Regions from separate parts of the Homo sapiens genome. Here all the other regions are linked to region 4. Evidence: fine-mapped expression QTL. A gene starts in region 4. Each other region holds a variant in brackets. All regions are shown on one strand. Distances are between the middles of the regions.

Region 1 (5,097 bases), 50 kb after region 4:
TACAGGCATGCATCACCATGCCGGACTAATTTTTTGTATTTTTTTTTTTAACAGATTCAGGGTCTCACCATGTGTCCCGGGCTGGCGTTGAACTCCTGGGCTCAAGTGATCCTCCCGCCTTGGCCTCCCAAAGTGCTGGGATTCCAGGCGTGAGCCACTGTGCCCGGCCAGTGGTGCTCTTTTATGTGTCTCATTCTGTTTCTCCAAGTCCCATATTTTCTATGTGCATCTGTCTGGCTGTGCGTCTAATGCTTTCCCTCTTTCCACTGCATGGCACCCCATCCTAGGCACATTCATCCAGCCAGTGGACGCTACCTAGTATTCTAGTGTCCTGACGAGCCAGGGACTTAGGGGACACAGCAGTGAGCAAGACAGAAAAGGGCCCTCCTTTCATGGAGTTTACATGTTACTAGGCAGGGACAGACCAGTGAACGCATAGTCGCTTTGCTGGTGGTGAGTGACGTGAAGGAGATGAGCTGGGTGATGGAGGGAGGCCGGCTCCCGCTCCAGGGTCGCTCTCTGGGGAGGCAACGGCTGGCCTGACCCGTAAACAGGTTCTTAGAAGGCAAGTGTTGGCAATGTCGGGAGAGACGTGTTTGGGACACTTCATGGGTCCACAGTCAGAGGGTGTCCCCTGTGGATCCAAAGCATAGTAGGTACAATTGAGGGGCGAGCTGGGATCTGCCGGACGCAGATGCTCCATATGCTACCACATCCGTCTCGGCCCCTTCTGGAGAAGAACGGCCACCGCCTCACTTCGGTGTGACCCAGCCACAGAGGAGAAGGTTCTGGGAAATGGGTCTCCAGCTTAGAATAAGAGAACAACCTGGCCGGGCGCGGTGGCTCACGCCTGTAATCCCAGCACTTTGGGAGGCCGAGGCGGGCGGATCACGAGGTCAGGAGATCGAGACCATCCTGGCTAACACGGTGAAACCCTGTCTGTACTGAAAATACAAAAAATTAGCCGGGCGTGGCGGCGGGCGCCTGTAGTCCCAGCTACTCGGAGGCTGAGGCAGGAGAATGGCGTGAACCCGGGAGGCGGAGCTTGCAGTGAGCCGAGATCGCGCCACTGCACTCCAGCCTGGGTGACAGAGCGAGACTCGGTCTCAAAAAAAAAAAAGAGAGAACAACCTGGCAGGTTCCTCCTCTTGACAACTCAGCACAGACGCACACTTCTTTTAAAAAACACATTTAACTTCCAAATAAAGCAAAAAACAAAGTCATGCTTCTACGTAACATGATGCAAATATTCCAACCAGAAGGGACTGAACAAAAGGTTCGTGTCATGTTATCCACATTTGAGAAGACGATCCTCGTTCTTCTAGTTTCTCTAAGAGCGTTTAACACTTGACACTGCAAAGTGCATGTTGGGGGTTGGATGACACAAATACTGAGATGAAATGTAAAGTTAACTGTTGTTAACGCATTTTATGCAGCTAGGAGGGCAATGGAAGAGGAAAAAAGCAGGAAGAACGGATAATGTCAGTACAAGTGTGACTTGTGTGAGGATAAGAAGTACTCACTTCTACGGTCACCAGGTCGTGGCTGGTACAGTCTTTATGGCCACGCTCTTCCGTCACTCCTGCGTGGTCCCTTTGCCCTCTGCAAGCACCTCTGCTGGTCGTGGTTCACTGTCTGGTGGGGTGACCCAAACGTTCCTTCCCAAAAGGCCTATGCTGTTAGCAGTTTTGCCTTATGGGGTGGTTCTGGTTTTCCAGTGGTGTTTTCTGCAAGGCTTAGAGGAGCTACGTGATATTACAGACGATCTCCTGCCTCCCAAATTTCTCCCCCTTAGCCCCATTCTGTGATCAGGTTCCAAGTTCCCCTTGTTGGGCTCAGTCAGCCGGACCAGCACAGGGACCCTCTTCTTTGTCGACCCCCTGGTGTGAGGAACCGGCGTCCAGGTGGGCAGTCTCAGCTTCCTGCGTAACGTGTCCCCTGGTGGAAACACTCCAGGGCTTTCCCAGGACCGAGGGGATTCCTAGGACATGGAACTTTCCGTTTTAAACCTGGGAAAGTCGGCTGGGCGCGGTGGCTCACGCCTGTAATCTCAGCACTTTGGGACGCTGAGGCAGGTGGATTACCTGAGGTTGGAAGTTCGAGACCAGCCTAACCAACATGGAGAAACCCCGTCTCTACTAAAAATAAAAAATTAGCTGGGCATGGTGGTGCATGCCTGCAATCCCAGCTACTAGGAAGGCTGAGGCAGGAGAATTGCTTGAACCCAGGAGGCGGAGGTTGTGGTGAGCCGAGATCGTGCCATTGCACTCCAGCCTGGGCAACAAGAGCAAAACTGAGCCTCAAAAAAATAAAAAATAAAAAAATGAAAATAAGACCGGCAAAGTCTTAAGCAAACTGGGATGAGTTGGTCCCTGGGAATCTGAGGCCTCTAGACCAACAGCGTGCAACACTGCAGGGGGCAAAACTTTCACTTGTGGCTCACTGGGGATTAACGACAATGGGAAGAAGTTGGGGTTTCCACTCCTCCACGCCTGGACCAGTGAGCCCCGGCTTTGGGAAAAGCCAGAGATTAAGTGCTGATTCAGTGGATCCGCTGCATCCAGAGGACCCCAGATCCACAGCATTGTCACTCAGCTGGTGCCAAAACTGAGCCTCCCAAAGGCCATTCCATCAGGAACACGGCGAGATCTGTGGGTTCCAGGAGCACCGGCCGGTTGCTGTCCCCAGGACAATGGCGATGCCGCCATGAGGAGCACCCCGTGGGTGGACGAGGAGCTCTGAATGTGTGGGGTGGTGGTTTGGGCAGAGGCATTGAGGGCACTGACCATCCACAGCTGGGGTGGGAGCCCATCCTGCTGGGACAAGCATCCTCCATGGTGGAGGAAGGGGCCAGTGTTGGTCTCCGCTGTTGGCTGCGCGGTGCCCAGGGTAATCCGCTTCCCACTGCTACAGCCACTTGGCCCGACTCAGGACAAGGGGAGCTGGGGAAAGAGGCTGCCTGATGCGCACAAATGGGTCATTTTGTCCGTCTGACTATTAGGGTCCCTCCTCTGCTGAGACAGGTCTTTGCACACAAATTCTTTATGCTCTGCCCACCCCAAGAGGTCTGTCTACATACCTTCACCCCGACCGTTTCATCTCTAACTTTGTAATCGTGCCCCTCCAAGTGCCTGGCCATCAGCTAGACGGTCGGCCGTGGCCGGGG[C/T]GTCCACGGAACTCTGCCTCCTCCTCCATCCTGCTTGCTGCTCGGCCCTGCGAGGACCTGCCTTTGCACCTGTCGTGCAGGCCTGGCCTCCCACACCCAGGTGAGGACCTGCCTTTGCACCTGTCGTGCAGGCCTGGCCTCCCACACCCAGGTGGCGCTGCCGTGCTGGGGCGCCCACTTCGGGGTGGTGCCAGCTTATTAGGCAGAGCCATCTGTGACCAGGGCTGCATTGTGCTTTCTGAGTCATCTGGTCCGAGGGAACGCCTCACGACCCAGTGGTGTATTTCAGAGAGATGAGGCAGAGTGAGGGGAGCTGCCTGTTCATGCCTGTTCAGGACCCACCTCCTCCACTGGCTTCCCAGGGCCCCCAGGACCTGTTTGAGCTGACCACGTGTAGACCACTTCCGTCGGTGGCATCTGCTGTGCACACCCAGCCCTGAGGCTGGTGGGTCCGACCACACCCAGTGCACGATGGCAGCCCAGGCGTTAGAATGTGCCTTTGGGGTTGGGCACGGCGGCTTATGCCTGTAATCTCAACACTTTGGGAGGTGGAGGTGGGAGAGGACGCTTGAGCACAGGAGTTCGAGACCAGCCTTGGCAACACAGGGAGACCCTATCTCTACAAAAAACACAAACATTTGCCAGGTGTGGTGCAAACCTGTAGTCTCAGCTACTCGAGAGGCTGGGGTGGAAGGATTGCTGAGGCCTGGGAGGTCGAGGCTGCAGACCTGTGATTATGCCACCGCACTCCAGACTAGGCAACCAAGCAAGATCCTGTGCAAAAAAAAAAAAAAAAAAAAAAAGAATGTGGCCCTTGGCCCTGCTCAGTATCTGGAGCCTGGTGGGGCCGGGACAGCTCTCCCCAGACGGTGGGGGCCGGGACACCTCTCTCCAGACGGTGGGGCCGGGACAGCTCTCTCCAGACGGTGGGGCCGGGACACCTCTCTCCAGACGGTGGGGCCGGGACACCTCTCTCCAGACGGTGGGGCCGGGACAGCTCTCTCCAGACGGTGGGGCCGGGACACCTCTCTCCAGACGGTGGGGGCCGGGACAGCTCTCTCTCCAGATGGTGGGGGCCGGGACACCTCTCTCTCCGGATGGTGGGGGCCGGGACAGCTCTCTCTCCAGACGGTGGGGCCGGGACAGCTTTCCCCAGACGGTGGGGCCGGGACACCTCTCTCCAGACGGTGGGGCCGGGACAGCTCTCTCTCCAGACGGTGGGGGCCGGGACAGCTCTCTCCAGACGGTGGGAGCCGGGACACCTCTCCCCAGACGGTGGGGCTGGGACAGCTCTCTCCAGACGGTGGGGCCGGGACACCTCTCTGCAGACGGTGGGGCCGGAACAGCTCTCCCCAGACGGTGGGGCCGGGACACCTCTCTCTCCAGACGGTGGGGCCGGGACACCTCTCCCCAGACGGTGGGGCTGGGACACCTCTCTCCAGACGGTGGGGTCGGGACACCTCTCTCCAGACGGTGGGGCTGGGACAGCTCTCTCTCCAGACGGTGGGGGCCGGGACAGCTCTCTCTCCAGACGGTGGGGGCCGGGACAGCTCTCCCCAGACGGTGGGGGCCGGGACCCCTCTCTCCAGACGGTGGGGCCGGGACAGCTCTCTCTCCAGACGGTAGGGCCGGGACAGCTCTCTCCGGATGGTGGGGCCGGGACACCTCTCTCCAGACGGTGGGGGCCGGGAGAGCTCTCTCTCCGGACGGTGGGGGCCGGGACACCTCTCTCCGGATGGCGTGGGCTGCAACAGCTATGTCCAGATGGTGGACCCTGGGACACCTGTCTCCAGATGGTGGCAATGCTTTGCTGAAAGTCAGTGCAGAGGCCAACCAGAGGTCCAGCCAGAAGCTCGACACAGTTCAAGCAGCACTGGATGTGCTTGGCCATGTGGCCCAAGTGGCCGAGCAGCCCATGTGGCACGTGGCCC
Region 2 (5,097 bases), 290 kb before region 4:
GCAGGACGGGGCAGGTGAGTCACCCATCGCTGGCTTAAAAATATCCTTGCTCGCCGGCCGCCGCCCAGGACCGACGGGGGCAGGCCGGGCTGCAGCAGGACCCGTCCAGGAGAGGTGGGGACTCGACCAGGCCCCCAGCCCCTTGCCCCGCGCCCTCGGCCCGGCCGCCCTCCAAGTGCCCCGCGCCCTGCGACGCCGCGTTCGTCCCGGTGTCCTGAACCAGAAGCCCCGCGTCCCATCGCCACCGGGTAAACTGAGGCCCGGGCGGGCGCGCTCCCCCGTGTCCGCAGCGCTCACCTGCCTCCGGCGCCCCGCGCTCGGCCTGTCCCCTCGGCGCTCGCCGGTGCGTCCGTCTGTTCGCGCCTCGGCCGGGGCGCCAGGTCTCCCGCGGGCGGGTGGGACGCTCGGCGGGGCCGGGCCGGGGCGGGGCCGGGAGAGGAGGAACCTGAGCGACAGGTTGCGGAGTCACCCGAGAGCGGGCGGGCGCGCGGGGGAGGAGGGCGTGGGATGGAGGCGCCCCCGCCGGCCTCGGACCCAGCTCCGCCCCGCCCCCTGCCCCGCCTGGGCTCCAGCCCCAGCCCTCTGCGTCCTCCCCAACACCCGCCTGGTGTGCCCCTCCGCGGGCCTAGCCCCTAGAGCTGGGGCGCTGGGGACAGGCGGGGCGCAGGGCCGCCTCCGCGGGATGAGCAGGGCGAGGCCTCGAGCTCTTCCTTGGGCAGGGCCTAGCTGCGCCCCAGCAGGCCGGGGGACGGGGGAACGCTGCCAATGGGACTTCGGGGGCAGCGCTGGCGCATTGCTGGGGAGGGCTCCAGCCCTGGGGAGGTCAGAGCCTCCGCCGGGCCAGGTGCACCCCTCAGGTGCCCCAGGCATGGGGCAGAGTCACTTCCCTTACCGGGCCCACCGCAGGCCCAGGGGCAGAGGCTTCGGTGAGTGGGTGGGTGTCAGGCAGGACCCAGCCATGCCCACCCCAGGCCTGGAGCCCTGAGTTCACAGTGCAGCTGCTCCTCCAGGCCCCCCTTTCTGCCCAGCCTGGGCACTGAGGGATGGGGTGTCAGGGGAGGTGGGGACACCTCAGGCCCTCTCAGGATGCCTCTCTCCTTGCACTGCCCCGTGGTCAGGCCCAGGCCCCACCTCTGCCCACCACAGTGGGACTGTCTGGTTCCGTCCTCATCTGCCCGGCTTCCAGGATGGCCCTTCTCCCCAGCTGCTGTGACCGCTCAGAACAGGGCCAGGGTGCAGTGGACACAGCGGGTAGCACCGGCTGCCACAGCAGTCAACTGGACGAGGACGAGGTGAAGGGGCACAGGGCGCCCCAGGCCCATGCAGGGACCCAAGGCTCCGGCTGCCGGTCCTGGGTAGGGGTGGGAATGAGCGTGGCCAAGAGTCTGGGTCCCCGGGCTATGGTCCCAGAGGGGCAGGGCTAGCGTGTTTACCCTGGGCTGGCCGGAGCACTTCCTGGGGAGGCGCCATAGGTGAGCTCGGTGGAGGGCTGGCAGGAAGTGGCCCTCCTCCTTCGGGCCCAGTGCCTGCCCCTGAGCCCAGGCAAGACCTGGCTTCCTGGTTTACAGCCTTTGCCGTTTGATCTCCAGGAACCTGCCGTGATCCTGCTCCATGCATGAGCTTGCCCTGACCCAGAGCTCAGGGTCACACACGCCAACCCCTCGGTGCACCCGTGCCCTCACCCTTCCTGGAGGCAGAGCTGGGAGTGGCCAAGTGGGAAACAGGCGCTGGAGAGGACAGCTGGGGGGTGGGGTCCCTCTCCACTCCTAAACGGGTGCCTGTCAACACGATTTTGAGTGCGGAGCCTGCCCTCAGGAGACAGTCCAGGCTGGCCTCTCGGGCCCCATCCACTCCGGGTCACCTGGAGCCATGGCGTTCCCTGTGGAACAGGTGACCACTGCCTTTGTGTGCTCGCTGAGACTGGAGGTATCAGGATCCATTAACCATGAAGGCAACAGGTCTCCAGCTTCAGGGAGGGGGTCCTTCCCTGGTCTGCATGGTTTGTGGGCTGGGTCCTCCAGATGGCAGGTGTGCCCAGCTGGTCTTCTGCGAGTGCAGGCGCTGGTGAGGGAGGTGGCCCGAGGCGCTCAGGCGCTGGTGTGTGAAGTGGGTCCTCAGGGCTGTCCTGCAGCTCACCGTGGCCACTGGGGGCCACAGACAGGTCAAAGGAAGTCGGCCCAGGACAACTGGGTGCTCCCACCGCTTCCACGAAGACAGGCAGGAAAGACTGTCCAGGTGCCACAGCCACAGCCACCCCAGCCGAGGGAGCCCCAGTGGAGGCCCAGGACAGTCCCGCAGCCTCCTGCCCTCAGGAGTCCACCGAGCGGAAGGCGCCCGGCAGCCAGGGCCCGAGGGCGAGGCCAGCCAGGAACTGACCAGCTGGCAAGTGGGGTGTGCTCTCTTGCAGGGCAGGAGAACTGGAGATGGGGTGGGGGAGGTGGCCATAATTAGGAGAATTCAGGGAGGCATACACATCTCTTTATTTACAAAATGCGGTGAAGAGAAAATATCTAGATATTTGGGTGTAATTATTCCAAACATAGAAAACACACAATAGAATCAAGTGAAGGGAAAGCTACTGTAACAGCTTAGATACTTTTTAAGGAGAACTGATAGTAAATCTGGGAATGGGAAAAAAACACAGAGCTAGAATTTGTTTAGCACTCCGTGCAAAAGGCAAAAGCTGATAAAACTGGAGTGGACGGAGGCTCCGAATGTGGCCCTCCGCTGCTCTCTCTCCTGCAGTCTCATCCCCGGCCTTAGCCCTGACCTCTCCTCCGAAGCCCCTGAAGGGAGAAGTGTGGCTAAGATGGAAA[T/C]TGCTAGGCAGCAGAGCTGTTGGCTTGTTTGCATTTATTGCTTTAGGAACCCAGAGTCCACTCTTGCACCGGGCCTGCCTGCCTGTGAGGCAGAGCTGGGGTTGCTCAGAGCACAAGGCCTACCCCATCCTGCGTCTCCAGCCCGACTTGGAAACACAGGTGGGGCCTGGCCACGGAGTAAACTGGGATCTCAGAACACAAATTAGGACCATTGGGGAACTAGGGGGTGATGGGGGATGCAGTGAGATGAGGCCTCTGTTCTGAAGGGCTCTGTCCTCCCTCTCGGCCCTGGGGGCCCATGGGGGTCTGTGGAGGCCTGGCTGCTAAAGCCAGACCCCACTGACAGGGCTGAGTGTGCGCTCCTGGGACTCATCTTGAAGGCAGTTCTGTCTGGTCCCTACCCTCCCCGCAGCTGTTCCCAACACCAGGGCCTCCAGCAGTTTGTTCTGCCCTGGCTCCTGCTCCCACTCCTGCCAGAACAGATGGAACCATCCAAAACCATCTATGGCCAGTCACTAGGAAAAGTGCCCTTCCTGTCCAGGAATGGGGAGGTGACAGCTGGGGGACTGGTCAGGCCCAGGAGGAGGGCCCCAGTGTGGGGTATCCCGGGTGTCCGTAGCTACCTGGTGAAGGCCGCGATGGCAACCACCTGCAGGACGGCCTCCAGGCCGTGAAGGGCCAGGAGCGTGGCGCTGAGGGCCCAGTCCGCCCACAACACTAGGGCCTGCCAAAGCAGGAAGTGGGCAGAGAGGAGGGCGGTGCCAGCCGTGAGGGCCAGGCTGGCGGCCAGCGGCCTCTCAGCCTCTGTCAGGTTGCCCCTGGTGCCTGGAGAACAGAGCAAAGGGGAGGGAAGGTGGTGCGAGGCGCTCCCTGGAGCCCACCGCCCACAGGTGCCTGGAGGGCTGCTGGGACCAGAGCAGCTCCTTGCCCTACGTTCCTCCGGGGCCTGGGGAATTCCAGGGAAACAGCCTCCATGGCCACCCAGAACTCAGGAGAGCCAGAGAGCATGGGCAACACAGGCGTGAGCCCCTCCTGGGGGAGGTGCCCCTGCAACAGCATGGTTTGATCTGTCTCTGGGTCTTCTGGGTCGGCTGTGTGGGCGGGGGTGAATTTGGTTTCTAAAATGATTCAAGTGCATCTGCCACGTTTTCCTAATTCCAAGTGGAACTGAAGGGATTTTTTTGAAAAATTCCCAAAGTATTTTTCTCTGGTCCAAGGCCAGTTCTGGAAAATTTCACGAGTATGTATTAAAAACAAAACTGCGTATTTAGCAAACAAATGGGTCAGTCACTAGCTGAGCCCAGGTGCCTGGAGACCCTGCAGTGTGCGGCGCGCTTGGGGAGGGTCCCGTTGGCCTAGCAGCCCCCAGCAGGGCCAGGCCACACCCTGTCCCCACCACCTCAGGGCAGGCCCAGGCCCCAGAAGATCAGCCAAGAACCGGGCCTCTGTGCCGCAGCGGTGCTCGCACCCTCCCAGCAGTGCCCGCCCTGGGGGGCAAGCTCTAGAGGTTCTGGGACGTAAGTGCAGACAAGACACTGACGGCCGGGCACCCCTCAGTGGGATGGGCAGCTGAGAGAACTCGCCTCCATCCTCCTAGTGTGTCTGAGGCCTGATAACAAGAGGAAGGGTGGGGGCCACCCTTCCCCGCAGCCTTGGTTCCTCACTGGACATCAGGCATCAGGGGTGTATCTGTATGTGAACAAGAGGGGCCCAAGATTCCAGCCTGGCAGGGGCACAGCGCCCTGGAAGTGCCCATTGCGTTCCCCACGGCAGGACAATGTTTCACAAACACGTGTGTTTAGGTGCACATGTTACGACCATGAGCACGCAGAGGGCTGGAAGTCTGCACCCCGCTGGCCACAGAGGTGAGCTCTGGGGAGGGCGAATTTCCATGTTTTACTTCTGCACCCCTTGAATCTTGTACAAGAACATACCCTTGAACAAATTGTGTGGTTAAAAAAAGGGGAGTGAGGCCAGGCACTTTGGGAGGCCAAGGTGGGCAGATTGCTTGAGCCCAAGAGTTCAAGACCAACCAGGGTAACATAGCGAAACCCTGTCTCCGGCCGGGCGCGGTGGCTCACGCCTGTAATCCCAGCACTTTGGGAGGCCGAGGTGGGCGGATCAGGAGGTCAGGAGATGGAAACCATCCTGGCTAACATGGTGAAACCCCATCTCTACTAAAAATACAAAAATGAGCCGGGCGTGGTGGCGGGCACCTGTAGTCCCAGTTACTCGGGAGGCTGAGACAGGAGACTGGCGTGAACCCGGGAGGCGGAGCTTG
Region 3 (5,097 bases), 33 kb before region 4:
GGGACCCCAAGGTGTAGCTAGGGCTGAGTTGTGCAGGGAGGAGGCGCTGGCCCCGCTAGGGGCAACTGAGGAGAGAAACAGAGCCTGGATTCGACGAACACCGACTACATTCCTGAAGCACGCACAACACTCTGCTAATCAACACGATCGCCACGTGGGGTCGGGCGCGACACACAAGATGATTTCGTGCAGCCGCAAGCACTGAGGAGCAACCACAGGCAGAATGACGGGGGACACAGGTGAAGCTTCGACAGCAGGACAGAGAAAGCGTTTCTGGGGTGACGCTGGAGGCGGGTGGCGGGGAAGGGGTCTGGATCGCAGAACCGCGCGGTCAGAGCCAAGGCGGGCAGGGGTGGGGAGGGCGGCGAGAGAGACGCAAAGCGGCCGCAGGGAGGGTCTGCCCAGGGTCTCCCCCACCTACAGCGCCGCCCTCCGCCCGACCCGGCGTCGGGAGCTCGGTCCGGCCGCTCCCCGGGACCCGGGGGGCGGTGCTGCCACACCCTCAAACCCCCGGCCACAGTCCTGGACTCCAAGACGGCGAGAGGGCGCTGCCGGGGACCCCCAGGCCAGCGGTGCCGGAACCCCCAGGTCGAGGGCACCCTCGCCGCCCCGCGGCCGCCCACTGCCCTCACCAGAAGAAGGTGTTGGTGCCGTCGTCGTAGACCTCGGACTCGGTGCTGCGGCGGCCCTCGCCCGGCCCGGTGGCTTGGCCGGCAGACGGCCCGTCAGGCGGCTCCTCCAGCGAGGCCCTGCCCGCGGGCACCGGGGACTCGGGCCGCGGACCTCCGGCGTCCCTGCGCTCGCCCCTCCGCATGGCGTTTCGGCCCGGAGCCACTCCGCCCGGCGCCTCGACCCCACGCACACCGGGTCACCGGCGAGAGGACGCGCCGCACACAGCGCGAGGAGCGCTGGGAAGGGGTCGCGGCGCTGGCCCGCGGGGTCTTAGGAGAGCAGCGCGGGGCCGGCCAGTAAAGGGTGTGCGGTGCATTGTGGGGCTTGTAGTCCGCGCGGGGCATGCTGGGCCTTGTGGTCCGACGTCGCGGGTTGGACGCAGTGCTTGCTGGGAAGGATGACGCCTGGTTGCTGGGAAACCGGAGCCGGACCGCCCTGCGGCTGAGGTCGCAGGAACCAAGCTGCGGATGGCGCGGGTCTCGCCAAGGCCTCCAGAGCTTGGAGGTAACCACAGACATCCCCGGCGGCCTGGCCCGAGTCCCTCCACCCCTTCGCCCCTTCCTCGCCGACGGATCCCGGAGCCCAGCCCCGTTCTCCTTTTGGGGCGCTTCCCGACCCTTCACCCCATGCGACCCGGGTCATTCCTTTTTGAGACGGAGTCTCGCACTGCCGCCCGAGCTGGAGTGCAATGGCGCGATCCCGGCTCACTGCAACCTCCGCCTCTCGGATTCAAACGATTCTTCTGTCTCAAGCTTCCCGAGTAGCTGGGATTACAGGCGGCCGCCATCACGCCCGGCTAATTTTTGTATTTTTAGTAGAGACGGGGTTTCACTATGTTGGCCAGGCCAATCTCGAACTCCTGACCTTGTGATCTGCCGCCTCGGCCTCCCAAAGTGCTGGGATTACAGGCGCGAGCCACCGCGCCCGGACCGGTCTGGGTCATTCTTTCGCAGGATCGCGTGAAATTGGGCGGGCGAAAATGGTGCGGACACGCTGATTTTAGTTGACCCAAATTGTTGACATGGTACCCTGCAAAAAAATTAGCTCCTGAGCCACTCTGAAAAGCAATGTGGCAGCTCCTCAAACCTGGAAACAAGTGTCCACGCCAAATTTACACACTAGCGCTCCTAGTTGCAGCATTTTGATAATAGCGGCATGTTATTAGCCATAGAGGAGCGAAGCATGCGCATGCTACAGCACAGCTGGACCTTGAAAACATTATGCTAGGCAGGCCGGGCGCGGCGGCGCACGCCTGTCATCCCAGCACTTTGGGAGGCCAAGGCGGGCGGATGACTTGAGGTCAGGAGTTCGAGACCAGCCTAGGCAAAGTGGTGACACCCCATCTTTACTAAAAATACAAAAATTGCCCTGGCATTGTGGCGGGCGCTTGTAATCCTAGCTACTCGGGAGGCTGAGGTGGGAGAATCCCTTAAATCCGGGAGGTGGAGGTTGCAGTGAGCCGAGATTGTGCCACTGCACTCCATCCTGGGCGACAGAGCGAGACTCCGTCTCAAAAAAAAAAAAAAAAATGCTAGGTGAAAGAAGCCAGTCACAGGAGACTACGCATTATGTGATCCATTTGTATGAAATGTCCAGGAAATGCAAATCTATGAAGACAGAAATTAGATGAGTTTTCACCGGGGGCTGGGGAAGGGGTAATAAGGAGCGACTACAAAGGGTAGCAGGTTTCTTTCGGGGCGATGAAAGTGCTGTAATATTGACCTCAGCTCCTATCTGTGAATGTCCTAAAAACCACTCAACTGTCCACTCGAAACGAGTTGAATGGGTGAACTGCATGATATGTGAAGTATATCTCATATCAGCTTTATTGAAATATAACTCACATACTAAATATATAAACATATTTGCGGGGCTCCTGCACAGCCACGCCCAGCAGGGATGGGGCCTGACTGTGATGGGACCTTCACCCCAGCTCCTGACACACAGGCTGGGCAGTGCGGGAGGCGCTGGCTCCAGGGGGCGTGCTGTTGGGCCTCCCCAGGCCTGGCCCCCTGCCCCAGGCCCTGGCCGCGTCCAGCTGGGGTCGGCTGAGTGGCCAGAGCAGCCAGCTCCCGTCCATGCCATCTTTCCAGCAATCACCCGACAGGCCTGGTTCCCTGTGAACCATCCTTCAGGTCCCCTCCCAGACCTCTTCCCATCCCAGCAGGTGGCGCTCACATTCCAGGCGCCCTCTCGGTGGCGTTGGGGTCATTTCCTGCGTATGGGTGTTCTCTCAAACTGCACAGAGAGCCCTCCTGCCGTCCCTCCAGGGTGCAGAGGCCGGGGCGGGGAGA[T/GGCCGGGGCGGGGAGAT]GTACCGGCCCCACTGGGGTCCCTGGCCCCAAGGAAGCTGCGCGCGAGGCCGCCTCGCAATGACGCTCGTTCCTGTCGGCTCGGGGGCGGGGCCCAAGGGCGCGTGAGGGGCGGGGCCGAGGACATGGTCTGTGGGCGGGGCCTGAGGGCGGGGCCTTGGGACCCGGAGTAGCGTGATCTAGACCGCGCGGCCCCGCCAGACCGCGCGGCCCCGGGCGCGCAGACCACGTGTTCGTTGCCCATCACTACGGAGCTCTGGCCACGTGCCAAGTAGAATTCCCAACGCTTTGTAAATGCTAACTATTGTGATTTTTTTTTTTTTAAGCGTAGTCTCACTCTGTCACCCAGGCCTGGAGTGCAGTGGCGTGATCTCGGCTCACTGCAACCTCCGCCTCTCGGGTTCAAGCGATTCTCCTGCCTCAGCCTCCGGAGTAGCTGGGATTAAAGGCGCCCGCCATCACGCCCGGCTAATTTTTGTATTTTTAGTAGAGACGGGGTTTCACCAAGTTGGCCAGGCTGGTCTCGAACTCCTGACCTCAGGTGATCCACCCACCTTGGCCTCCCAAAATGCTGGGATTACAGGCGTGAGCCACCGCGCCGGGCCAACTATTGTGATCTTAACACACCCCCTTAGGTTCTATTTTTGACTGTCGCTTAGAGACAAAAAAACTGTGGCAGAGAAGGCCGGGCGCGGTGGCTCAAGCCTGTAATCCCAGCACATTGGGAGGCCGAGGCGGGTGGATCACAAGGTCAGGAGATCGAGACCATCCTGGCTAACACGGTGAAAGCCCATCTCTACTAAAAATACAAAAAATTACCCGGGCGTGGTGGCGGGCGCCTGTAGTCCCAGCTGCTCGGGAGGCTAAGGCAGGAGAATGGTGTGAACCTGGGAGGCAGAGCTTGCAGTGAGCTGAGATCACGCCACTGCACTCCAGCCTGGGTGACAGAGCAAGACTCCGTCTCAAAAAAAAAAAAAAAAAAAAAAAAAGAAACAAACAAAAAAAAAACTGAGGCAGAGAAAGGTTGGTGACAGCTACGCCCAGCTCTTTCCAGACCCCAGAGCCTCTACCCTGAACCCCTGCACTCTACAGGGAGCTCTCCACCTGCAGTTTTGCACCTGGCGTCTCATATCTGAGTCTCACATTACCCTGTCCCTGTCTTCACCCCAGCTGCAGAAGTGCACACCCCTCCCCACCCAGGCATGTGTGGACTGGCAGAGTCCATTGCAAGACGTGGGCCTGAGGGGCAGGGGTGAGGCCGGAGGTTTGTGGCTCAGGGAGCACCGTGGCTGGTGAGGAGGCAGTGGAGCAGCTTGGAGGACTTGGTTCTTTGAGGCCCCAGAGCAGCAGAACTGGGGGTCCCCCGCCTGGGGAAGGGTGCACGGGACAGAAGCCTTCCTCAGCTGCAGAGATGCCTGCCAGAAGCCTCAGGGCGCTGGAACTTTTAAGAAAATGGTCAATTCTGGCCTTACCCAGGGACAGAGCTGGCCAGAGTCACATTTATGGTGGTAAATAGTGAATGTTGGCGAAATGCTTTCTAAAAATGCCCTTGCAAGGAAGGGAGAGGAAGCCTAGGAATTTGTAAAGTAACAAATGCCTGTTGTAATATTTCCCCTGGTGCGGTAAATCCATAAAGGTGAGTGGATTACAGAAAAACTCACCGTGCCACACGCACACCTGTGCCCGGGAGTTTTCTCTGGCTTGTTGGAGGGAGCGTGGACAGCAGGACTGCTCCCCAAGTCAAGATGGTTAAGGCCTGGAGGTGTTGGGGAGGCAGCAAGGAGACAGAGTTGTCCCTGCAATGAGGACGGGAGGGGTTTGGGTCCCCACCCCAATGCCACCCTGGTGTGGCAGGCAAGGATGGCTTCAGGTGGTCCTCAAGGGCAGAGGCCCAGCTGGGAGAGGGTCTCCCCTGCAGGGGCTTCAGGCTGGGGGTCGCCTGCCAAGCACTGTCAGCCAAGAGAGGCTGGAGCCAGCAGGGTGCCTGAGACCAGCCCAGAGAGAGTACAGGGGCAGGTTCTCAGAGGCACCGACTCCAGCTGACCCAGAGGGGCTGCCTCTGAGCAGTGCCTGGACGAGTCTGCTCGTCCAGACACTGTGTCTGTGTCTGTGGCCGCGCCCAGGAGGCTGTT
Region 4 (5,097 bases):
CTGGGCGCCAGATCCTGCCGTGCCCCCATCCTGGCTGTTGGGGGTGTCCTGAGCCCACCTCGCTGGCCTGTTCCCTTCAGCCAACCCGTTTCTGCAGTAAAATTAAGCCTGTCTGTCTTGCTTTCCTGGCCTCGCTGGGTCCCGGGTGGATTATATCTGCCCTCAGGGCTAGATGGGAAACAGACCCGGAGTGTGGAACGTCTGGAACCAGGTGAGGCCGCCTCAGGCCGCCTGTCCCTTCTCCAGTTTTCCATGGGCTTCCAAGGGAGGGGCGCCTATGGGGTCCTCTCCCCGTCCCTGCACCTGGGGTGTTGAGGGAGGCAAGAGAAGACATCGGGGCCACTTGAGGGTGGGGTGGGGGTCAAGGCAGGCTTCCTGGAGGAAAGGGAAGAGATAGGGGCGGACGCGCAAAACCTTGAGGGCGGTGGACGCTCCGAAGAGTCCCCAAGGCTCTGGGGCTCCGGGGCTCTGCGCGCTGGTTGGGCTGGTTTGGCCACTGGCCCCAGGCCCGTGCGGCAGCGGCTCCCGGGCAGCAGCGCAGCCTCCAGCGCCAGCCTTGGGCGCAGAGCGGGACGCTGGGGTCCGCCCCCGCCCTGACTGCGGGGCGGGGCCGCACCTGCTGCCGCTGCCGGGGCTACGCCGCCGCCGGGGCTGTTGCCGCTGCGCACCTGGCTCAGGTGAGCTGCCCCGCCCCCGCCCGGCGCGAGCCCCAGGTCCTGGCAGCAGGTGAGTGGCGGTCGCCATCAGACCCGCGAAGGTGAGTGGAGGTCGCAGTCCTCCCAGAGCCGCTGCAGGCCTGGAGTCGGGGCCCGGGGCGCTGCTTGTCCCTGGGCGCGGTCTCTCAGGAAATGGCTCGGGGCCGGGGAGGTTCCCGCGTCGCCCGGAAGCCCGAGCTCGCCCGCGTCCTGGCCCTTTCCAGGGCTGGGGGAAGGGAGGAAAGTGGGCGAAGGGGGCGGGGGCCACCCTTTCCTCTGCCCGACGTGGTCAGCGGCTTTTTGGTGACCCTCGCGCAGAACAGAGCGGGGCTAGGAGCGCCGAGGCGCGCAGGGATCCCACCTCGGTCGCCCAAGCCTGGATCCCAGCTCGAGGCTTCCTGAGGCGCCGAGGGCGGACCAAGAGTCAGGCTGGGGCCCGAGCTCGCCCGGCGCCGGGTGGAGCTTCCGCCATCCGCGCGCCTCTGCCCCGGCCGAGCGCCCCGAGCCGCACCCCCGTGCCCGCCTCCCGCGCGCGTCCTCGTTCTCCGCCCTCCTCACTTGGAGGGCGCCCAGGGCGCAGGTGGGCGCGGGGTAGGGGAGCGAACCAGAGCCCCTCGGCCTGCGGGGCCGCAGCCTTTTACCCACGTTCCTGCTTCAGGACAGGCGCTGGGGGCCCAGCGCGCACGGGGAGCGGAGGGGCGGCGCGTCCGAGCTGAGCGGGAGTCGCCCGCAGGGTGCTGGGTGCTGAGCGTCGAACCCACCGGGCAGGGGCGGCCGCGGACCGAGGACGCTGGCTGGGTCTGAGGGCGGGAGGAGCTGGCGCTTTCTAAGAACCTCAAGGTGCCCAGCAGAGTGCGGTGGGCAGTGCGAGGCGACCAGGGCCAGGCTTGGACTGAGATTCTGGGCGCCTCGGAAGAGCTGTGCGGGCGAGGGTCGGAGACTTTGTGGGTGTTCATGCTCACCCTGGACGGTGGACCTGGGGGCTCGGGGGTGCAGGACGTTAGCAGAGAGAGGGAAGGAGAGGGTGCCAAGCCAGCCCTGAGAGATGGTGACGCTGAGACCGGGTGCACAGAGCAGCCGCCGAGCCGGGGCTTCACAGTTGGCGGCTGACCCCAGGGCCTGTGCTGGAGGCCCTGCTCCTGCTTCCTGCGGGGGTGCCCTGGGCCCTGCTGTGCCTGCTTCCTGACCTGCAGTGTGGGGAGAACCTTCTTGAGGGGCTTCCAAGGACCCACTTCAAGGAGGGGCTGGTACCAGGCTCTGTGGGGGAAGGGGTGCTGTCTTTGGGACCCTGAGCCCAAGGCCCACCATCACCCAAGGCTGAGTACCGGGACAAAGGAAGGTCCTAGCAGGGCTGGGACTCAGTCAGACAAGTACCTGTAGAAAGCCTGCTGCTGAGAGGGTGCTCAGCCAGGGCCGGGAGGCTGGATGGCAGCCCTCCACAATGAAGCCCTGCCCCCATGTGGCTGAGGGCAGGGCCAGGGTCCAAAGGAGACCCTTGTCTGATTCTGTGGGCAATACCAGCCACCGGTCACTGGGTCCCCAGTCCCAGGTCAACCTGGGGAGTGTCAGTTTGGTGACAACAGGAGATGCCATCTGCCCCTCATCTGCTCTGAGCCAGGAGCCTCGGCCACCTGTGTTTGCTCCTTATTTGGAAAAGGGGGCGCTGCCCTCCCACCCCAGCCTGAAGGGAAGGTCCACAAGATGCCATAGTCCCTTGTAACTGCTCACCCATCGGGGGAGCTATGTCTGGGAGAGGGACGGGGAGAGGGCGGAAGAGTTCTGCTGGAGCCCCATTGTTGACCGGGAGTTTCTGAAGGCCCTGTTCCCCGGGGTCAGAGGTCAAAGACACATGGGGGAGCAAACCGGCCCCTTGGCTCCTGAGTGTGAGCTCTAGTAGCGTCTGGAAGGCATGCCGCGCGGTCCCCGGTCCTCCTTGTATGTGTGCAGGGTGGCCCTGGCGGGGGTCTCCTGGCTGGAGGACCCCCCATGCATTACCCCTGGAACCTGCCCCTTTGAGCACCCCCCACCCCACAACACACACGCACACACACAAACGCACGCACACGCACATACTGCACACACATTGCACACACGCAGACACACTGCACACACACACACACACACACACACACACACACACACACACACGCTGCACAGAGGAAAGTGCCGTGCCTGGGTGGGTTGGGGCGGGCTCCAGAGGAAGGAGCCGCTTGACTCAGAGCTACAGGAAGAGCCGGGGCAGGCGGGGTGAGAACCACCAACTGCCCGTCCTCCCGCCCGCCTAGGGAAGGGGTGGGTGCCTGGGTGGGGTTTAGGGTTAGGAGAGGATGTGACTGCAAGGCCAGGAAGCTACAGGGAAAGTTCTGATCAAAATACACAAAGACACAAGCCAGGTCCCCACCGCGCTTGGCGATGCATCCATAGCAGCCTTGGTGCTGTGGACACTCCCTGGGGCCCAGCGAAGGGGAGAGTTTGCTCCCAAAGGCGCACCAATGACCAACATTTGCCCCCCGGAGGAAAGAACTGGAACCAGGTGACTGCCTTCCCCGCTGCTCTGAGTGAGCCTGTGTCAGGGCCTGGCTGAGAGGAGGCCCACGGCGCCCAAGACCCATATGCATGTGTGTGCATGTGTGTGTGAGACAGAGCGAGGGGCAGCAGGAGGCTGTGTCGCATCAGCGGCCAAGGGTGGGTGTCAGGTGCAGTGTGTGTGCTGTGGGGTGCCTGTGGTCCTAGGCTCTGTGACAAGCGTTGCAATGGGTGTTGTATATACTCAACAGTTGTGTGAGGGGTCTGCAGCCTAAGCTGTGTGCAGTGGTAATGGGAGGTGTGTGTGGTAGGAAGTGTGCTGTGTAGGAGGTGCAAGTGTGCACACGGGCTGAGACTGAAGCTCTGTGCAGGTGCACATGGGCCAGAGGGCTGTGTGTATGTGATGTGTGCAGGGGAGGAGGGGCAGAGGAGAGGGTGCAGGGGAAGTTAGGGAGGGGAGGGGGTACAAGGAAAGGTGTGCAGGGGAGAGGGTGCAGGGAAAGGTGGGGAGGGGAGAGGGTGCAGGGGAAGGTAGGCAGAGGAGAGGGTGCAGGGGAGAGGGTGCAGGGGAAGGTGTGCAGGGAAAGGTGGGGAGGGGAGAGGGTGCAGGGGAAGGTAGGCAGAGGAGAGGGTGCAGGGGAAGGTGTGCAGGGGAGAGGGTGCAGGGAAAGGTGGGGAGGGGAGAGGGTGCAGGGGAAGGTAGGCAGAGGAGAGGGTGCAGGGGAAGGTGTGCAGGGAAAGGTGGGGAGGGAGAGGGTGCAGGGGAAGGTAGGCAGAGGAGAGAGTGCAGGGGAAGGTGTGCAGGGGAGAGGGTGCAGGGAAAGGTGGGGAGGGGAGAGGGTGCAGGGGAAGGTAGGCAGACGAGAGTACAGGGAAAGGTAGGGAGGAGAGAAGGTGCAGGAGGAGGCAGGCAGAAGAGAGGGTGCAGGGGAAGGTGGGGAGGGGAGAGGGTGCAGGGGGAGGCAGGCAGAGGAGAGGGTTCAGGGGAGAGGGTGCAGGGGAAGGTGGGCAGGGGAAGGTGGGGAGTGGAGAGCGTGCAGGGGGAGGCAGGCAGAGGAGAGGGTGCAGGGGAAGGTGCGTAGGGGAGAGGGAGCAGGGGAGAGGGTGCGGGAAGAGGGTGCAGGGGAGGGTTTGCAGGGAGAGGGTGCAGGGGAGAGGGTGCAAGGAGAGGCAGGCAGCGGAGAGGGTGCAGAGGAGGGTTTGCAGGGGAGGGCACCTGCTTTCTTGCTGTGCTCGTATCCTGGCAGTCTGCCCTTGACTTCCAGAAGGCTCTGAGGCTGCTTTTGGAGGGAGGACTTTGAGGTCTGAGCTTGGGGCGGTCACGGAAGCACTGCAGGAGATGCCAGGGGTTCTGCTGGGCTGGCGGTGTGACCTCCCGGGCTTGCTGTGAGGGGTTGGTTTCCTGGGAAGTGTGTGCTTTAAGGACCCTCAGTGGGTGGTTCCCCTGGGTCAAGGACTTTCCTTGGAGTGTCCTCCACCGCAAAGGACTTCTTCAAGGACCCCCTGGCCATCCCCCATGGGTGTGTGCCTCATGCTGTATCGGTTCCCGAGGAAACTGCCAAACAGTCAAACCTGGGGCCTCTGGCTGTGCTTCACCCATGGAGAGGGAATAGGTGGCAGGCTAAGAGGACTGTCCCTGCCACTGCCTCTGGGGCCTTAGCGGGGAGGAATCCTGAGGGAGCTGGGGTGCAGAAACTTAGGCTTGATCCCCACATCCCCACTTCCACTGTGTCCCTGCAGCAGGGAGGGGAGTAGACAGTCAGTGCCTGTTGGATAAACAGGGTGACCCTGTGGCATCCAGTGAGGAGAGGCCCCTGGGGCCCTGGGCTGCCAAGGAAGAGGCTCTGGGCTTCTCCCTGCAGCCACCTCACTGAGG
Region 5 (5,093 bases), 24 kb after region 4:
GCAGCCGCTCGGCCTCCGGCCCCTCGGCGCCCCGGCGGTCCAGCTGCAGGTCAGAGGGCAGCGCCAGGGAGCACACGCCGGCCTCAGGCTGCAGGGCCGACAGCAGGAAGTTACCGTCCTGCATGGCGGCAGGTCCACCGGGCCTGGGCCTGGCGGCCGCCTCCAAACCCAACTATCTTCACGTCCTGTCCCTCGAGGCCCTCTCCCTGAAGTCCCCGCCCAGCCAGCCTCACCCAGAGCCGCCTGAAGACAGACGCCTGCCCAGCCCTGAGCGCAGCTGGGGGCGGGGACACCTGGCCAGGTGGGAGGGAGGGGCCGCCGCCTGCTTAAGGTGGAATTTGGGCGGAAGAACAGGCCCTGCATGGCCCCAGGTCCCAGCCTGGCCTCCCGCCTCCTTTTCTCCCATCCCACAACAGGGCCACGGGGACCTGGGTCCTTCTTGTTCTCAGCCTGTAAAGGCCAGACCGGGCCCTTTGTCGTGGGGCTGGGACAGAGGGGCCCTCTGTGTCCTGAGTGTCAGGGAAGGGCAGGGGGCCTGCGGGGGGCCTATGTCCTGCCACCCCCAGCATGAAGGGGAGGGTGCCCCAGTCCCTGGGGGTCTAGGGCCCTAGGTAGCTCCAAGAATCAGCCAGCCTCCATGGTAGCCCAGCCTTCCTGGTGAGGTGGGGATGAGGCCTAGGAAGGGTTGGCAGGAGACACTGTCGGGAGTCAGGGGTCAGTGCCAGGGATCAGGACAAAGGCTGGAGGGACAGAGCTTTAGGGTCCAACGGGACTCCATGGAGGCCCTGGCCCTGGTCCTTGGAATCCAGCGAGCCCCCTCCGCACCAGGAAGCATGTGGATGGACCGGCCCTCCCCCGAAGCCTGCAGACCCTGGAACTCACCCCCAGGACCCCCTCACCCCCTACAGAGGCCTCCAAAACCCTCTCTGGCTTCTGGGACCCTGGCACCACTGCTCCTGCACCCCAGGCCCTGGGGTGGGAGGCCGTTCCCAGCACATGAGTCAGGGTGCAGGGGGGCGGGGCCGCCCCAGGGGGTTGACTCAGAGGGCCTGCACTCCTGTCAGCGCATGTCAGGCTGGGGCAGGAGCGGGTGTGCAGGGAAGAACCAGGGGTCTGGAAGAGCAGAGGCCTGGATGGAGAGGGAGCGAGGGTGGGGGGCCCCTGGTGGGGGTGGGGTAGTGGGGGGCCCCTGGTGGGGGGGCCCTGGACCAAGCAGGGCTTGTGCCCAGAAGGTCTCCTTCTAGCACCACAGCCAGCAAATGGGCTCTGAGGCCCTCTAGCCTCTGGGACAAGCCCCTGGTAGATGGGGGTGGGGATAAGCCTAGGAGGGCTGGGGGTGGGAGCTGAACATCTATGACAACCTCTGGGCTTCTCTCACGAGCTCATCGGACAGCCTCTGCTTCTCCCTGGACCCTGGACCCTGGCTCTGGGCTCTCCTCCAGGGCAGACCCTTGCCCCCTAGCTCCGTCCCTGGAAGATTTTTGCCTTAATGGGGCTGGGGCAGGGGTCTGGCGTGAGGGCCGGGTCAGGGTTAGGAGGCAGCATTAAGGGTGAGGTCAGTTCTGAGGGGAGGAAGCTGGAGAGTAGGAGTCGGAGGTCAGCGTGGGGGGTTAAAGGGGGAGGGGAAGGTCCACTGAAAGGATGGGTGAGGCCCGGGCTGGGGCCACCAGGTGGGGTCGGGGTGGTGGGGAAGGGGTGGGAGACCTACCCGGCTCGTGGTCCGGATCCCGCCAGCCTCCCAGCTCATCCCAGAGGCCACTGCTGACGGCCGAGGTGTCCAGGACTCCATCCCTGGCCCGGCGCGTGCGGGGCAGCCTCTGCGGCGGGGACAGGACTGTGGGGGCCTCGGAGGGCGGGGTGGGAACGCCCAGCTCATCGGACTGGCTGATTCCCTGGGAGACAGGTTTCGTGTGGAAAAATCCTGGGAGACAAGTTTGTGCGGCGCAGAGCGGGCCTGGAGGTATGTGCCTGGCATGGGCTGGGTCCCGCCCTGCACCCAGGTCCACCCCAGGCCCACCTGGGGCCCTGCAGGGGCCAGGCTGGGCGGCATGAGGGGGAAGCCAGCCTGGAGGGCCTCTGCAGCCCAGTCAGGCCGAAGGGCTCACAAGAGGACTCAGTGAAGGGGCTTCCGTGCGGCTGGAGCTATGATGGGAACGCCGGTACCCCGCGGCCTGCAGGGCCCCCAGGGCCGACTCTGCCCACCTTCCCTCCTCCCCTTGGCAGAGAGGGCTGTGGGTGCCCCCCCCCAGAGCTGCGGCGCCTCCCTGAGGATGCGTGGTGCCCGCCAGGCACAGTTTTGGCAAAGCCAGGAATCTGGGGTGCACCTTCCCTCACTGCGGCCGGGCCAGACGGATGGCGATGCCTGCTAGGCCACCGCTGCAGCTTCCAGCTCCAGGCTCGGCGGAGTCTCATCTGATCCCTGTGACCAGCCCTGAGGGTCGCACTCTCCCTGGAGCCAGCTCCTGACACAGGAGCCCTGGAGGGGGGCTTGACGGTAGGCTTCCTGGAGGAAGCGGTTGTCTGTGGGGCCCGGAATCTGCACGGAGCCTCGGGCCGCTTGGGTGCACAATCAGGTTGAGAGCCTGGAACCTGAGGGCCTCGAAGGGTGAGTGAGCGCTGCTCTTAGATGGGTCCTGGGTGGGGTGTGGCCTGTCAGTCACCTCCCAAGAGGCGGTGGGAGAGGGCGCAGGAGGGCTTCGGGGCATGGTGGGCTCAGCGTGGGGGGCACGGGAGGCGCTCACAGAGAAGGTCGGCTGGGCCCAGGTCGTGGGCAGAGCTGCCAGGTGCGTGCCCGGAGTTGTGGGAGGGCACAGAAGACAAACCTCCAGGGCAGAGCCTGCGTGGGTGGAGGGGGTTGGGGTGGTCGTCTTAAGGAGCAGAAGGGGGAGGATCTGGGGAGAAAGGTGTGAGGACGTTGGAAGCAAAATATAGTCAAAGCCGAATTCAGGAGTGAGCCGGTGCACAGAGAGGCTTGGGAGGCTGCCTCAGGTCCCAC[C/T]GCCTGCAGGGGCGGGGTTCGGAGTGCATTAGGGGAGCCCCTTGGTGGTTGATGGACCCGGCGTGGGGGCACAGCTCACCCAGAGGCAAGCGTCCTGGCGCTTCCTGTTGGCGCCCACGCTTGCAAACCTTCTGACTTGGGCTCCAGCCAAGTCCAGCCCCTCCACGGAGCCTGCCCGGCTGCCCATGGGCACCACCCCTCACCTTGTGGAGTGTGGCCCCTGCCCCGCGCCTGTGGCTGGGGCAGCTCTGAGGTCTCTGGCCTTGGTCCTTGGCATGGAAAGTAGCTGAGGGGTATGGCCCCTGTAGGCTCTTGGGGGGGACACCTTTCATCTGCACACACCCCGTCCACTGCCGGCCTGTTGGTCAGTCTGTCCATCTGTCCGTCCACTACTTGTTCGTTCATCAGACGAGTCCCGGGCTCTTGCTATGCCCCCGGCGCTCCTCTGGGGAAGGGGGCGTCTGTCTGAGGCAGGCGGGGCATCTCCCGGGGGTTCTCCTGGGGTCTGGCCTCAGGACCCCGGCGCTCCTCTGGGGAAGGGGGCGTCTGTCTGAGGCAGGCGGGGCATCTCCCGGGGGTTCTCCTGGGGTCTGGCCTCAGGACCCCGGCGCTCCTCTGGGGAAGGGGGCGTCTGTCTGAGGCAGGCGGGGCATCTCCCGGGGGTTCTCCTGGGGTCTGGCCTCAGGACCCCGGCGCTCCTCTGGGGAAGGGGGCGTCTGTCTGAGGCAGGCGGGGCATCTCCCGGGGGTTCTCCTGGGGTCTGGCCTCAGGACCCCGGCGCTCCTCTGGGGAAGGGGGCGTCTGTCTGAGGCAGGCGGGGCATCTCCCGGGGGTTCTCCTGGGGTCTGGCCTCAGGACCCCGGCGCTCCTCTGGGGAAGGGGGCGTCTGTCTGAGGCAGGCGGGGCATCTCCCGGGGGTTCTCCTGGGGTCTGGCCTCAGGACGGTGTGTGGACCCATTCAGTTAGCCCCAAGTGTTCCTCACCAAATTGCAGCTGCTAACAGGTGGCGGCCGCTCCTGTTGCTTTCCTGTTATAAACAGGTGGCGCTGTGGGGCCAGGTCCTCCTCAAACAAGGCGGAGGAGGGAAGTCCTGGGAATCGGGGGCCTGGCCTAAGAAGGTGCCTTCTGAAAGGAAAAAAGCTAACCCCTCCATGGAGAGGTCCCTGTATTCACAAGACTGTGTTGATTCCTGACATGGTGGAGGAAGGAGGCCTGAGATGCCACTCACAGTTGTGCCAAGAGATGGGGAGGGGGGCCCAGATTGGAGAGGAGAACTCTGGAGTCCAGGACGAGGTCCATCCTCCTTCCCTTGACCCCTACAATCCCTGGGGTTCCTGGATGGCAATGGTGGTCTGGACGACTGTAGCTGGGGAGAGGAGGCTGGGGACCCATCAGTCCTGCTGTACCATTTGGGAGACTGGCCCGAGGTCCGGCAACCCACGTCTCCAGGGATGGTCTGTCCTCCAGCGGTCCCCTGTGGGCGGAGGATGACCCAGGTGCCCAGGCAAGAGACTGAAGGCACAAACTGTTTCAGTATAATAAAGAAAATAGAATAAGAATAGTCATAATACAAATTAGATATAGAGATGCTCATGGACAATTATCAATCATTATTATAAACATTATTAGTCATTAGCTTTTAATATTACTCTTTGTTCCATTACTATATAACCTAGGAATAAGCGGTGGGTATAGGGTCAGGTGCTGAAGGGACGTTGTGAGAAGTGACCTAGAAGGCAAGAGGTGAGCCCTCTGTCACGCCAACATAAGGGCCGCTTGAGGGCTCCTTGGTCAAGCGGTAACGCGAGTGCCTGGGAAGGCACCCGTTCCTTAGCCGACCGCGAAAGGGAGTCTCCTTTCCTTGGAGAGGTCGGGGAACACTCTGCTCCACCAGCTTCTTGTGGGAGGCTGGATATTCTCCAGGCCTGGCCCGCAGTCATCCGGAGGCCTAACCCCCTCCCTGTGGTGCTTGAATGATCACACTCCTTGTCCACTTTCATGCTCCTCCCGTACTCCTGGTTCCTCTTTGAAGTTCGTAGTAGATAGCGGTAGAAGAAATAGTGAAAGTCTTAAAGTCTTTGATCGTTCTTATAACTGC

The links.
Region 1: its variant is fine-mapped to the expression of SIGIRR in esophagus muscle (GTEx, PIP 0.99).
Region 2: its variant is fine-mapped to the expression of SIGIRR in lymphoblastoid cells (GTEx, PIP 0.92).
Region 3: its variant is fine-mapped to the expression of SIGIRR in prefrontal cortex (GTEx, PIP above 0.99).
Region 5: its variant is fine-mapped to the expression of SIGIRR in whole blood (TOPMed, PIP above 0.99).

The regions. Positions count from the first base shown.
Region 1 is chr11:362,865-367,961 of GRCh38, reverse strand. No RefSeq gene overlaps it. Among named protein-coding and RNA genes, the nearest start is that of B4GALNT4, 4.1 kb to the left of the region's middle. The variant C/T (reference allele first, on the strand shown) is at 3,167.
Region 2 is chr11:701,489-706,585 of GRCh38, reverse strand. It overlaps TMEM80 (transmembrane protein 80), which reads right to left. Exons shown (of 5, transcript NM_001042463.3): 5 at 2,457-3,641. The coding sequence ends at 3,436. EPS8L2 (EPS8 signaling adaptor L2) reads right to left here and starts at 355. Exons shown (of 21, transcript NM_022772.4): 1 at 298-355. It also overlaps a transcript of DEAF1 not described here. RefSeq lists a silencer at 409-538 and an enhancer at 1,515-2,442. The variant T/C (reference allele first, on the strand shown) is at 2,817.
Region 3 is chr11:446,173-451,269 of GRCh38, reverse strand. PTDSS2 (phosphatidylserine synthase 2) reads right to left here and starts at 991. Exons shown (of 12, transcript NM_030783.3): 1 at 633-991. The coding sequence starts at 814. RefSeq lists silencers at 307-396, 407-466, 657-896, 2,524-2,833, 2,924-3,213 and enhancers at 927-1,206, 805-1,491, 3,224-3,363. The variant T/GGCCGGGGCGGGGAGAT (reference allele first, on the strand shown) is at 2,967.
Region 4 is chr11:412,954-418,050 of GRCh38, reverse strand. It overlaps SIGIRR (single Ig and TIR domain containing), which reads left to right and starts at 3,052. Exons shown (of 10, transcript NM_001135054.2): 1 at 3,052-3,228. ANO9 (anoctamin 9) reads left to right here. Exons shown (of 23, transcript NM_001012302.3): 23 at 1-113. RefSeq lists silencers at 820-869, 1,080-1,159, 1,190-1,309, 1,370-1,439 and an enhancer at 1,960-2,579.
Region 5 is chr11:389,324-394,416 of GRCh38, reverse strand. It overlaps PKP3 (plakophilin 3), which reads right to left and starts at 208. Exons shown (of 13, transcript NM_007183.4): 1 at 1-208. The coding sequence starts at 124. RefSeq lists an enhancer at 1-755. The variant C/T (reference allele first, on the strand shown) is at 2,996.